Homo sapiens: one gene and its partner. The protein of the gene in region 1 interacts with the protein of each later gene in a biochemical or structural test. Each region holds a gene or a part of one and is shown in the gene's direction. Other genes may lie near its edges.

What was found.
Region 2: the proteins of APAF1 (region 1) and APIP form a complex in vitro, tested with the Homo sapiens proteins (one study listed by BioGRID).

The regions. Positions count from the first base shown.
Region 1 is NC_000012.12:98,676,281-98,683,299, forward strand, and holds part of APAF1 (apoptotic protease-activating factor 1), read left to right. Parts: intron 1-1,144; coding exon 1,145-1,271; intron 1,272-3,996; coding exon 3,997-4,122; intron 4,123-6,862; coding exon 6,863-6,994; intron 6,995-7,019. UniProt on the Homo sapiens protein: Oligomeric Apaf-1 mediates the cytochrome c-dependent autocatalytic activation of pro-caspase-9 (Apaf-3), leading to the activation of caspase-3 and apoptosis. This activation requires ATP. Isoform 6 is less effective in inducing apoptosis.
Region 2 is NC_000011.10:34,913,371-34,921,249, reverse strand, and holds the start of APIP (methylthioribulose-1-phosphate dehydratase), read left to right. Parts: upstream 1-4,870; 5' UTR 4,871-4,965; coding exon 4,966-5,022; intron 5,023-5,311; exon of another isoform or gene 5,312-5,330; intron 5,331-7,879. Other genes in the region: PDHX (pyruvate dehydrogenase protein X component, mitochondrial isoform 1 precursor), read right to left, coding at 4,435-4,594. UniProt on the Homo sapiens protein: Catalyzes the dehydration of methylthioribulose-1-phosphate (MTRu-1-P) into 2,3-diketo-5-methylthiopentyl-1-phosphate (DK-MTP-1-P).

The DNA.
Region 1 (7,019 bases):
CTCACTGCAACCTCCACCTCCAGGGTTCAAGCGATTCTCATGCCTCAGCCTCCCGAGTAGCTAGGATTACAGGTGTGTGCCACCATGCCTGCTAATTTTTGTATTTTTAGTAGAGATGGGGTTTCACCATGTTGGCCAAGCTCATCTCGAACTCCTGACCTCAAGTGATCTGCCCGCCTCGTCCTCCCAAAGTCCTGGGATTACAGGTGTGAACCACCATGCCTGGCCCCTTTATACTTTAGATACTATGAGCAGTAATATAATATCTATACTGGTGGAATAGTTGATATTCATTAGATTGAGATACAAAGAATATGATGTTGCTTTATCTTTTTGGTATGTCTGAATAATTGTAGTTTGAGAGAAGCAGTTTTTTTTTTTTTTGAAATGGAGTCTTGCTCTGTCGCCCAGGCTGGAGTGCAGTGGCGCGATCTTGGCTCACTGCAACCTCCATCTCCCAGGTTCAAGCGATTCTCCTGCCTCAGCCTCCCAAGTAGCTGGGATTACAGGCACGTGCCACCACACCCAGCTAATTTTTATCTTTAGTAGAGACGGTGTTTCGCCATGTTGGCCAGGCTGGTCTTGAACTCCTGACCTCAGGTGATCCACCCACCTTGGCCTCCCAAAGTGCTAGGATTACAGGCATGAGCCACTGCGCCTGGCTGAGAAGAGCAGCTTTAAAGTACATCATAATAATGGTGGGTGTTTCCTTCAGTTAGGAAATGAGCATTTTGCTATGATTTTTATTTTAAAAAAGAGATGGAGAATTTTTGAAGGTATCCTTATATAATGATTTATCTGCACATGTATCATTATTAATGTATCAAAGGAAAATGGAAAGTGACATGTTGATTAACTAGATTTGATTAATTTGATTAATTAGATTTCTTCCAACTCAGTGACATTTGTAACACGTGACAGGTTGCTTGATAAAGGGTAACATTTCTCTTACAAATGCTACTTTTGTTATTTTTTTTCTTTTGGTGATCTGTGCTGTCATTTGCATGTTAGTAATCTGATTTTAAGAATTTTGTATTTTGGGGAACATAACCATGTTAAAAGACAGTTTATTTTAGTACTGAAAGAAAATAGTTACTTTTACTCTCATTTATTTAATTTCTGTTCATTTTTTCCCTGTATTTAGAAACAAAAAAAACATCACGAATCTTTCCCGCTTAGTTGTCCGCCCCCACACAGATGCTGTTTACCATGCCTGCTTTTCTGAGGATGGTCAGAGAATAGCTTCTTGTGGAGCTGATAAAACCTTACAGGTAAAACACATCTCTTGAGAAAAATGCAAAGAGGCATGTATCCAGTTTTGTGCAGATCAGAATATGTTTAAATCCTAAAATTCAAGAAAATTGCAACTTAGAAATAACAGAGGAATCCAGCTCTCTTGAACATTTTATTAAAGGTTTCTCTAGAGATTTAAAAGATACAGTTACATGTTTTCCTAATTCTAAACTTACAGGTGGTAAGGAAGTGCCCTTTACCCTGCCAGTCAGTTCCCAGCCATCCATTTGTCAGCTAAGGGTAGTGAGGAAATAATTGTTAGAAGACGTAGGGCTTCATAGCACAGGGAATAGGGCTGTGATTAAAAAACAGTGATTAGGAAAATACCTATTTTATCAAAGTCTTAGGCATAGGTTTTTTTCTTGTAAATAGGAACTGGACTAGACTATTTCCTAAGTTGTTTTAAAGAATTTCCTTTAAGATTCCCTTTGTTTTCAGAAAATATTAATGAGTACTTTTCTTTATGTTTGTGTTCTGCCTTTTGATTTTGCAGAGAACATGATGAAATTAGTTAAAACTTGTATTTAGGATACTTTTAGTCTTTGCAAGATTATGACTCCATAGCTTATGTCTATATGTGTACTTTATTACTAATTTTATTAATCTTGGCTTTTGAGTTCCAGAGAGAATGCATATTAAATGAAATGTTTTATTTGATTGTTAAGAATTTGCCAAAATAGTCTCAAGAGCTGAAGCTGTGCTCTGACACTTCTTTTTGATGGCAGCGGCGGGCTGCCTGGAGTGGCTGCTGCCATCATGCTGGCTGCAGCAGGGAGGCGCAGCTGGGGCTGCATGCTCTGTGGAGCTGGCGGTAGCTGGGGACAAGCAGGAACCCTACCCCTTCTGAATTGGGGCAGGAGCTCCTGGTTCCTGCTGTAGCCGCCCAAGCCACAGCTGTGGACCTGGGAACCCGCTCCATGGAGCAGGCCAGAGCCCTGCCCTCCTGGGTGTAGCTGTAGCCGCCCAAACCACAGCTGCAGGCTCGGGCCTCCGGCTCCACAGAGCAGGCAGGACCCCTTCCCCCTGGTGCAGCTGTAGCTGCCCAAGCGGTGGCTGCAGACTCAGGCATCCCTGTACTCTTGGGGGACCTGGAAGGACCCCCTGCCCTTGTAGGCTTGGAAGTGCCTGCTCCCGCTGCCTGACTTCTCCCTACTGTTGGCACCCACTCTGATCTTAGAGCAAAGCTGGGGCTGAGCCTGGGTGCTGTTGCAGCCCGGCCAGATGTGCACATGCTTGGGGCAGTGCTGACATGCCAGCCCCCTGCCGCCTCGGCCCCCTCCGGACTTTGGGTGCTGATGAGCATAGGAGGGAAGCCAAGGGGGTGCTGAGGGCAGTTTGATACTGGCCTGCAGGCTCCCCTTGGCACCTACAGCCTGGGTGCCATTCATGGCAGCAGGAGGCAGACAGGTTCCTGGGTGGAAGGGGGCGGGTCACCAATGAGGCCCCACCTTCAGGCCACAAAGGGCCTGAAGACTGGGGGCTGGGCTGCTGGTGTGGACTGAATGGACTGGAGTGGGAACTTATAGTGCCTTTTCCAGGCTTGCCCATGTCTGCCCATGGACCAGTTGGCATGTACTTCCTCCCTTCTGAAGCCCATAAAAGCCTCGGGCTTAGCCAGTGCTGAGCAGACACTGGGACAACCAGCTGCAGAGAGGAGCAACCCACTCTAGTGCCCCCTCTTTGCTGAGAGCTGTGCAGATGACAGGAGGACCAGCTGCAGAGAGGAGCTACCCTCTCTGCTGATAGCTGAACACTTGTCAGGAGGACTTGCCTAGCAGAGAGGAGCTACCCTCTCCTGAGCTGTGGAAAGGAGCTGCCCCCCGCAGGTTTATTGAGCTATTTTATCGCTCAATAAAGCTCCTGTTTGTCTTGCTCACCTTCCACCTGTCAGCGTACCACATTCTTCCTGGTTGTAGGACAAGAACTTGGGATCCCACTGAATGGTGAGGCTAAAAGAGCTGTAACACAAACAGGGCTGAGACATGCCCCTTGCTTGCCGCATTGCAAGTGAAGATAAGTAAAGAAAAGCTGCGGCCCTTCGGGGAGCCCAGACTTGGGAGCTCCCCAAGCTAGGGCTGTGACTCCCTCTTTGGGGCCCCGCGGTTCCTGGCATCTCCAAGCTTCTGGGCACCACCGTGTTCCCCGGTGCCAGCGTGTAAGCTGCTTGTGGTGTGCCTGGTCCAGCCACAGCCTCACAGAGAGCCAGAGCCCATGCTGGCACCTGGAGCTGCCTGCCCCGCTGCAGCAGTCAGCACGTCTGTGCGCAGTGGCTGGACCCCACGCTCACTCACACACGCCTCGCTGTTCCACGCCTGACTCGCCCTTGGCAGGCTTGGGACCCAGGCTGGTAGTGTGAGCTGAATGCAGCCTGTCAGGCCAAGTGGGTGAAACAAGACCAGTGGGCCCAAGCAAAACTTGGGCAAAGGCGCCACCGGCCACAGAAGTTTCTGGCCAGAAAATCAACACCCCAAAGATCCTGTAACATTTTCATTGATATTTACAAACATGTAACAGTGAATAGTTCTCTAGTTATGTGAAGGCATACACATTCTGACAGAAATTCTGATTTTGGGAGTAGCTTTGCCAAGGTTCCTTTCTGTTTTGCAAAATGACAATGATTAAACTCACTTAAAGATTTTTATTGAATGATGACCAGTAGTTAAGCAGTTTATTATAAAAAATATTTTATTGTTACTTGTGCAGGTGTTCAAAGCTGAAACAGGAGAGAAACTTCTAGAAATCAAGGCTCATGAGGATGAAGTGCTTTGTTGTGCATTCTCTACAGATGACAGATTTATAGCAACCTGCTCAGTGGATAAAAAAGTGAAGGTAGGAAAATCTTTTCCTCTTGAGTTGTAATCACAACAGAATTCATTTTATTTTTCCATGATCATGAGACCAGAGTAAGTAGAGTTAAAGGACTCTCACCTGTTGATCTACTAACCTGATTCATTGTAAATTAACACTATCTGAAAATTCTTTACTTTTTTTTAAAGAGACAGGATTTTGCTCTGTGACCCAGGCTGGAGGGCAGTGGCATGATCATAGCTCACTGTAAACTCCAATTCCTGGGCTCAAGTGATCCTCCTGCCACAGCCTTCCAAAGTGTTAGGATTATAGGTATGAGCCACTGTGCGTGGCCTGAAAATTCTTTATTTTTAAACACCAGCAAAAATGCCTAGGTTGATCACCTCAGGATTAAACAAGCAGTGGGGAAAAGCAATGACAAATTAGTGAGTTTGTCTTCCATTAATAGACAAGTCCATGGGTTAAATATCAGTTGAAATCTTTGAGTGCATTGTGATTAGGAGTGTTGCTGCACAAACTTGGGGATTCCTGTTGTAAGATACAATTTTAAAATGCAACCCCAATTTTTTTAATTTGCTTATGAACTGGCTTATATATTCAGTGGAAAACCAGGTGGATGAACAAACTAATAATTACGTTACTGGTCTAAAAACATAAATAGAGAAAAGTAAACAGAGTAATTTTTACTTATTTATTTTGAGGCAGAGTCTTGCTCTGACACCCAGACTGGAGTGCAGTGGTACAATCTCGGCTCACTGCAATCTCTGCCTCCAGGATTCAATTGATTCTTATGCCTCAGCCTCTTGAGTAGCTGAGATCACAGGTGTGCACCACCATGCCCAGCTAATTTTTGTAGTTTTGGTAGAGACAGAGTTTTGCCATGTTGGTCAGGCTGGTATTGAACTTCTGGCCTCAAGTGATCCGCCTGCCTTTGACTCCCAAAGTGCTGAGATTATAGGCATGAGCCACTGTGCCCCGCCAGAGAGTAATTTTTATTTTTGTTAAGTATTCTCTTGTTCCTAAATTTGGCTTCTACCAGGAGCATTTATACTAATATAGAATTCAAGAGAAACTGAAGGCTTGTGGGGGTTATCACTGATATATGGAAGACAGACCTTACTTTAACCCTTTTTCAAAGGGGTTAAATCTGGAGTACTGGATGTAGCTAGGTGGAGTGGGCAAGAAATTTGCCTTGGGTGTTTTCCTGAAGTTTTCACCTACTGGAAGAGGGCTATGGAATGTCCAGACTAAATTTGAGACCTTGGAAAAATCTACCTCTTGATAGATTGGACTCGTGGCTTAACCAACAGTTAATTCACTCTGTAGTGTCTACTCTGACTCTGAGTCAGACTTGGAGGTGGCCACTGAGGGCAGTTCTAAAGTCAGAGCTACATGGAGTAAAAGGAAATAATAATGAGTTTCTGTTTTCTAAGCCAGAGGTAGAAATACCTATTAAAGAACTTTAAAATAAGATAAACTCTCTGGACCTCTGGGGATTCTAATCAGTGCTTTGATAACATACAAAGGAAATGCCAAAGGACATTAGTACCTCTAAAAAGTCAAAATCCCAGTGAAGGTTCATTAGGTAATTTATTTCTTTTGTTTGTTGTTATATGGCATAGACTGCTTAGTTGTCTTACATAGTAACTAGAATGATGATTAATTTTTTTGTTTTTTTTTTTTTTTTTTTGAGACGGAGTCTCGCTCTTTCGCCCAGGTTGAACTGCAGTGGCGCTATCTCGGCTCACTGCAAGCTCCGACTCCCGGGTTCATGCCATTCTCCTGCCTCAGCCTCCCGAGTAGCTGGGACTACAGGCGGCCGCCACCGCGCCTGGCTAATTTTTTGTATTTTTAGTAGAGACGGGGTTTCACCATGTTAGCCAGGATGGTGTTGATCTCCTGACCTCGTGATCTGCCCGCCTCGGCCTCCCAAAGTGCTGGGATTACAGGCGTGAGCCACCGCGCCCGGCCTGATGATTACTTTTTACTGAAAACTGAACACTATAAGAGGCTATAAATACTACACACTTTGTCATATTACATTATCAATTTCCTGCTACAGCTTGCAGGGTTAAGTGTCGATCCCGTTTACAGAAGAGGACGCAGATTCAGAGATGAAGTCTCTTGCTCAAGCTTACATTAAACTGGGAACAGTAATAGGGTTGAAAGCTGGGTTTCTCTCAGACTATAAAACCTTTATTTTTTTTAACTAAGCAATCTGCCTTTACTTATTTATATGGTACCTTGAAGTCCATAGAACACTTGTCATGTTCATTATCTCATTTGATATCTTAAATTGTGTGGGAGAGGTATAGATATCCCCATTTTACAGAAGAGGGAACTGAGATGCAGGTAAGTTAGGGATTTGTGACACACAAGTCATAAGTGGTAGAGCCAGCTCTTGGGCTCAACCCTTCTGACCAGAAATCTATTATGCTAACCTCTTTAAAGCACTTCTCTGCCTGCTTTCATTCATATAAACATGTGAAATCTTGCCCTTAAGAAATGTCATGTGTTCATGACACTCTAGTTATGCTATAGGTACATATATGTATATTTGCAAATAATTTTTTTTAAACATTAAGGCAAAATATTGCCATATTTTAGAAAGGGGAGAGGTTTCATTAGCATCTTGTCCAACTAGGAAAATCTGCTATGACAGGATAAGATAGCATTTGCAAAGCAATGGACATTGCTTTGCCCCTCTGTTCTCCCTTTGAAAATAATGGATATTTGTAAATTTTTTCTCTTTTCTCTTTAGATTTGGAATTCTATGACTGGGGAACTAGTACACACCTATGATGAGCACTCAGAGCAAGTCAATTGCTGCCATTTCACCAACAGTAGTCATCATCTTCTCTTAGCCACTGGGTCAAGTGACTGCTTCCTCAAAGTAAGTGTGGATATTGAGAATTAGG
Region 2 (7,879 bases), on another chromosome or scaffold:
GACAAATAATATGAGCCCTAGAAGAAATAGATGGAATAATTATGGTTTCCCCATGGCCCTGCAGCATTTTATAAGTGATGTTCTATCCTTTTAATAAATCCTACTTTTACTAGAGCTATTCTACATGTTTCTGTTTCCACAGTTAAATGAGAATTCAAAGGAGAATATCAATCTTATCAGTGTATAAGCACTTAATAAGAACCAGGCCTAAAAGAGTATCCGTGTTTTGGCAGAAATACCATACCATTAACTCTATCAAAGAAGTTCCCTCTCTCCTGGTTATAGCACTGCTGTCAAAAACTCAGATGCCTACAAAAAACAGGCAGGTGAGAGAAGAGGACTAGCATCTTCAGGTTTTTTCTTTAGATTCTGACATCCTTTATTTTCATATTAAATGGATAAGCATTTTCCTCCTTTACACATATACACAATATCTGCTTTCTCCCATTTTTCTTGGTCTTTTGTCTTCTGCCTTCCGTAGAGATAAGAGTACAAGAAAAAAAAATGACAACTAGAGGTGATGCAAATACCAAGGGACATTCAGCCTTGCTAAGATGTAATACAGAGTAGGCGGCATAGTGACAAAGTAGGAAGCAATTTCCTACCTAAAAAGAACAATCATTACTCAGTGTTAGATAATTGTCACCACATAGGATTTAACTATCAATTTTAAAGAGAGAACAAAAATCTAGATTTCTCTGTAAAGTCTCCTGATTTTAAAATTTTGCCATAAGTTTTTCTGCTAAAACAATGTGGGTCAGTTCCCTGGCTGCCAACTTGGAATCCTACTGTAGGCTCTAGTGTTCTTTTATAACTTCCTAGATTACTAGCTTCCTTAGATATGTTTATTGAACATCTATAATATGTATTGCCTATAATTATATACTAGGCAAATCGCCACCAAGATTGAACCTCAGTTACTTTTCTATTCACAGGTTATTTTAAATTCAACATGTTATTCTTCAGAGACAACTTAAAACCAATACTATTAATTAACATCTTACCAATTATATTCCAAATCATGCTACCTACTCTGAAAGGACCACAATTTAAACTCTCTGAAGTTAACTGTCTAGAGTAGGTTGAAAAACTGTTTACAGATGCTGTGTCAATTATATAATGATCACTCTGGTCTCTGGGTCTTTGTTTCTGCTGTTCCTTCAGCCTGTAAGGGCTGTCACCTCTTCCTCTAAGAAGCTGCCTTATATATTATTTCCTGATCATTTCAAACTTACCCCCTCTGAGCTTACTGTATACACTATTGAAATCATACCTTTATTGTTTATGTCCCCAAAGAGACTACAAATACCTTAAGGATCAGCCCTATATAGAATTTTGGATTGCATGTCCAGGAGCTAAGTATGATTAAATGTGCCATGTGGCAAATACTGAGAATCTGTTTGATTCAGCTGGCCACTACTTCCCAAGCAGGGTACCATGTGCCTGGCACCTAATAGATGCTAATTTCTTCACTCATTCTTCAATAATGTAAGTGGTAAAAAAGATAGTCTCTGCATTCTCAATAAATCTGTTGAGAGAATGATACAAATTAAAGATTTGTTAAACAAATTAATATATGTATATAAATATATACATGCACTTCAGTTCATCAACACAGTTACATGTCTTTAGGAGACTCAATTTCTCTAAGCCTTGGTGTTTTTGTCCAACTAAATGCAGATGATGCCAACTTTACTAGGTTATGTGAGAAGTGAATGAGAAATTCTAGAAAGTGCTAAGAAAATGGCATATGTCATAGCTCATAAAAATGCTGCCAGCACCTCTTAAGGAAATTAAAACTCCAAAGGTAGTTCCGACTGACAAATTTTTAAAGATATTTGTGTGAAAGACGAAACAGTTCAATAAATGTACTTAATTTATATAGTTTACAGTAATCCAAATAGTTGTTTAGTTTTATAAAACTACAGTTTCTACCAAGCTCAGAGAAAAAACACCACCGTAAATTCACAGTTTGTAAAACAAATAGTTCAAGGATTGCCACGTGTTTTCGGCATGGCAAAACAAAAATCTGTATGTAGGTGAAAGTCAGAAGCGGATATATTTTGGCTCGGTATTAGGAAAAAAGTCCAACACTTCCAAATACTTAGTATTTCCAAATACTTTCCACAGCTTCACATGCAGAATGCCATGCCTCAAAAGGTTCACGTCCTAATACCCAGAACCTATGAATATGCTGTTACATGGCAAGAGGGAATTAAGGTTAAAGATGGAATTAAGGTTTCTACTCAACCTTGAGATGGGGAAAATATTCAGGATCATCCAGATGAGCCCAATGTAATCACAAGGGTCCTTGTAAGTGGCAGAAGGCAGAGGGGAGTATTAAGAGTGACGTAATGTGATAAAGACTGAACCAGCCATTGCTGACTTTGAAGCCCATGAGTCAAAGAATCTTAGAAACCTCTAGAATCTGGAAAACTTAAGGGAATGGGGTCTCGAGCCTCCAGAAAAGAATGCAGCTCCTACCAATAGCTTGATTTTAGCCTAGTTAGATCCATTTTGGACTTCGGACCTCTAGAACTATGAGATGTGAATTTGTGTTGTTTTAAGCCACTAATTTCTGGTAATTTGTTGCAGCAGCACTAGAAAACTAATTTGGCTTTCCTTGAGATGCCATGCCTTCTTCCTGACAGATGGTATTCAAACTGGGGTAGACAAGTTGTTCATGGTATATGTCTAGGGGATAGGGAATAGGTAAAAAAGCATCATGAGGATGCAGATAAGGATTGCTTGCCTAACTGAGTTTCTAAAGGCATTAAACTGGGCCTATGTATACTTTTTTTTTTTTTTCTCCTGAGACAGGGTCTCACTCTGTCACCCAGGCTAAAGTGCAGCGGCAGGATCATAGCTCAATGAAACGTCTAACTCCTGGGTTCAACGGATCCTCCTGCCTCAGCCCCTGGAGTAGCTGGGATGCCAGCACGCCTGGCTTTTTTTCTTTCTTTTTTTTTTTTTAAGTAGAGACGGGGGTCTCACTTTGTTGCCCGGGCTGGTCTCCAACTCCTGGGCTCTAGCAATCTTCCAGCTTCGCCTCCCAAAGTGCTGGGATTACAGGCGTGAGCCACTACGTGCACATTTTTGTGTGTGACCATTTATGGTACTTCCTCTGTACAGAGAGTCTGTAACATTTTCAAAGATTCTCAAAAGGATCTGCTTGATAAACAAGATTAAGAGCACTCTTCCTAGATTATATCCAATACTAAACTTTTAATATTCCATGATTTTCTAAGGCAGTGAGTCTCAAAGCTCATTCCATTAAATGTCAAAATAAAACATCAAAACTCATCCAACATTTGTAAAATGCAGATTCCTGAGCCCCACACCAGACCAGACCGAATCTCTAGGAGCTGGAAAAAAGTTTAATTTCAACAAACTTGGAGGAGGGAAGAGAAGGAATTCTGCACACACTGTTAAAGCACCTCTGCTCCAAGGAATATGTTATGAAACATTACACCAAAAATGAAATAAATTGTTCCCATTAAGGAACCTTTAGGAACCCCAATACACTCATCTTACCATATGACTTTGTGTGATTTTTTTTTTCTGAGCCTAAGGTAGCTCAGAATATGAAGGCAACGTCTACTAGACCTATTTAAATTAAAATTCATTCTGTAGAGTGCCAGGAACGATGATTGGCAGGTAATACGTCACACTAAAAAACGTCAGTCCTATTCTCCATCCCCGCCTCCCTCCAACCTTCTCCCAAAATAAGGAAAAATAATACCCGGCCTGCCATTTTGCATACTGTTAAATACTGCAAGAATTGTGTTAACTGCATCAATATCATTACTAAACAACAATTTTCTATAATAAATTTTTGGTATGATTTATCTCCTAAATGTTTGCTCTTTCAAGCGAATATTTGCTTGAAACATTCTCCTGGACCTTTGTCTATCGTGATGCCGTAGGAATTTACAAATTTAAGTCTTCCACGAGTCATGGCGTGGGGTAAAACTCGACTGGCCTCAATGAAAACACCTCCTAACAGAGAGAGGCCTAGAGAATAAGTAAGAACTCCCAACAGTGGCTTTTCAATCTCGGCAACCTTGGGCAGCTTTTTCTCGTCCGAGACGTTTGACAACCCTAAAGAAACCTGAGCCTTGATTGGAAAGGGGGCTGAGGGAGGAGAGTTTGGGAACCCTCTCTGCGCCTCACAAATAACCCAAATTCCAAGGCAAGGTCACAAAGCCATACAAACCAGGGGGCCTAGGGCAGAGTCGAGTTCTCTCAGCTGCCAAGAAAGCCCTTCACAGCATGCATTAGGCCAAGTCGGCGGACCCCAACCGGAGAAAGAGGAAAGGGAATAAGGAGCCCGCGCACCTTCACACCCAAAAGCAGGCCCTCAATCATAACTGCCCCTGTCCCAGGCCCATCACTCAGCTACACAGAGAAGCTGAGCGAGCCCCGGCCACTCACCCCGAAGCCACTGCGTGCTGTGAAACCATCTCCAATTAGCTCCGCGGCTTACAGACCACCCAAGAGCCCCCTTCACCAGCCCTACGCTTCGGCGGCCGGGGAAGCCCACAAGATAACGCAGCAGCCGCGGATCACAGCCCAGCCTCCAGGAGGCCGCCATCTTGACGGCCTTCTCACTGGCTGCCCGCAGCACAGCCTGATGTCCAGCATCAAGGCCCCGCCTCCCGCATGGTTGGCCACGCCCCCAGACGCTAGCGGTGCCTTTAGGTCTCTCAGACTTGAACCCCCGCCCCCCAACCCAGCCCCGCCTCCAACCACGTTGGCCTTGCCTCCCGGGAAGTCAGGTGCGCCGCTGGATATCTCAGCCGGCGGGGCCTTACCAGACCCCGGCCCCCGCCCCGTTCGCCCCGCCCCCGGGCTGCCCTCAGCGCCGCCTGATTGCATTTGCGGCCTCGCTGCCGTATCCCAGGCTAAGCGCCGCGCGCAAAGCCGTGCGGAGATTGGAGGCCGCGCGGGTCCCTGGTCTGGGCCATGTCTGGCTGTGATGCTCGGGAGGGAGACTGTTGTTCCCGGAGATGCGGCGCGCAGGTAGGGGCGGGGCCACCGGTGCCCGGTATTCCCAGGAGGAGAGGCCCAGGCGGGACCCGGCGGCTGGAGCTGGGCGCAGGGTAGCGGGCCGGGCGTTTAGCTGCGGGGCGGGGTTTCGGGCCTGGCCGTTCGCTACCCCGGCGCACCGCGACCTTGGCGTTCGGAAGCAAGGCTGCGAGGCCCCAGGAGATCAGTGGTCTCGGGCGGGGCGCTCCGATGGCGGGAGCTGGGCGCCAAACGTTGGAAAGAAGCAAATAACTGAGAGAGGAGAGCGTTTAGGTGACCTCACCGGGTATTTATCAGGAAGGCAGGCCAGAGAAGGAATCGTGAAGCACCGAAGTGGAGCTGGGGCGAAGACCGCGCCCCCCAAGCTTCTTTTCTGCGCCCTGACGACCAGTTAGGCGTTTGGGGGGACGTTTGGCACTCGGGAGACGTTTGCCGAACCGGAGCTGTGCCTCAGCTGCCAGCGCTTTGCCTTTGAGCAGTTGCTCCTTGCCTATCTCCGTTTAGATGAATTGTGGGATGATCATGGGAACGATTCTTCCTTAAGCCGAAGTCAAAGGGAAATCCACCCTCACGCTGCATGTAGTTTTCGGTCATTTACACAAACCAACAGTTTTATGGAGCGCCTTCTACACGCTCAGAGATAGGGATACGTAAGATAAATGGCCCAGGGTCTGGAGAACTAGACGAATAAGCAGTTTCAGCACAATATGATAAACCCCACCTAAGAGGCAGGGAAACCCCTCAAAATTAGTTTCCTTATTCCCCCTATCTTATTCCTCCTATCTATATCTTTCTTAGGGTTGAAAATCCTAATTAAAAAGTAGTAACTCGCGGGAGATTTCATTGCTAAACATTTGTCAACCACTTTCTTGTTTGAATAAGTGACTTCCCCAAATTAGCAAAGACGACTCTGAAAATAGAATGCTGCATAGGCAAGATTGGATGAGAGAGAGAAGATCTTGGAGACAGGACAGGTAACTGGAGATCGTTCCTGGGCAAGTGTGTATGGAGAAGTGTCCGTACCCTCAATCAGTAAATCTTAGTGTAATGTCATCAGAATGAGCATCAAAGAGAGCCTTAAGGGACCCGAGAATAAACTAGGATTCTCAAACCAAACATGGCCCACAGACAGCTTGGTGGACAGGCATGTTTTTTTTTTGCTGCACTCAATGTTCATGAAAAATTTGAGCCAACCTTTTTTTTTTTTTTTTTTTTTTTTTGACACGTTTTGCTCTTGTTGCCCAGGCTGGAGTGCAGTGGCGTGATCTCAGCTCACTGCAACTTCTGCCTCCTTGGTTCAAGCGATTTTCCTGCCTCAGCCTCCCAAGTAGCTGGGATTACAGGCGCATGTCACCACACCCAGTTAATTTTTGTATTTTTAGTAGAGACTGGGTTTCACCATGTTGGCCAGGCTGGTCTCGAACTCGTTATCTCAGGTGATCCACCCCCCTAAGCTGCCCAAAGTGCTGGGATTACAGGTGTAAGCCACCACGCCCTGCCAAGCCAACATTTCAAAATCCAGAATCATTTCAGCTTCTTTTAAAACCTCAGAACACATGGTGACATTGGGCCCTTATTTTTTCATGGGATCTGGATTGCGGTTACTAGTGAACACCACCTTTACAGAGGGTGCTGGCCAGGTTACCACAGCTTCCACTACTCACACTGGATTTGCATATCTAGTTAAATACATGAGCCCCTCTAGATATTTGTATTTGTCTGGTTTTGTACAAATACATAAAAACAGCAATAAGAAAAGTTTTAAGAAGTCATAAAATTTCATTGTAGTTTTAGGGGGTCATGGGCAATGGAAAGAGACAGTCTCTTTGGCCTTAAGGAAGGGGAATGTTCAACTGTAAGTGATTAATTCAACGAATATTTAGTGAGCGCCTACTATGTGCCAGGCATTGTGGATTTATAAGTGCAAGCTGCATCTGGTTCCTTCTCCCCTAGAACATGCTGTACAGTGGAAGAGACAAATTAGCAAAGAGACAAAGATGGTATGACAACATGACATAGTTTGACATATGACGATATGACTTAGATGGGAAAGTTCAAGGTAGTTTAGGAGTATACACTTGAATGGGTTAGAGAATACCTCAGGAAACAGTGAAAGTATCTACTGAGGCCTAAAGGATCAGGAAGACATAACCACATGCAATGAAAGTAAGGATATTCCAAGTAGGGGAAGTAGCATGTACACAATCTCAGGGTTGTCCTTGATTACAGACATGGTGTGTTCCCATATTAAGTTTGGTGTTCTGGAACATAAAGTAGGGGCCAGAGACTTGAGATGAAGCTAAAGAGAAAAGCTAGTGAGAGGTAAAGCCGCTGGGCTTCTGGGTCGGATGGGGACTTGGAGAACTTTTCTGTCTAGCTAAAGGATTGTAAATGCACCAATCGGCGCTCTGTGTCTAGCTAAAGGTTTGTAAACCCACCAATCAGCTCTTTGTAAAATGGACCAATCAGCAGGATGTGGGTGGGGCCAAATAAGGGAATAAAAGCTGGCCACCAGAGCCAGCAGCGGCAACCCCCCTCGGTCACCTTCCAGGCTGTGGAAGCTTTGTTTTTTCGCTCTTCACAATAAATCTTGCTGCTGCTCACTCTATGGGTCCGCACTACCTTTATGAGCTGTAACACTCCCTGCGAAGGTCTGCGGCTTCATTCCTGAAGTCAGCGAGACCATGAACCCACCGGGAGGAACGAACAACCTGCGTGCCACCTTTAAGAGCTGTAACACTCACTGTGAAAGTCTGCAGCTTCACTCCTGAAGTCAGCAAGACCACGAACCCACCAGAAGGAAGAAACTCTGAACATCTGAACGAACAAACTCCGTACACACCATCTTTAA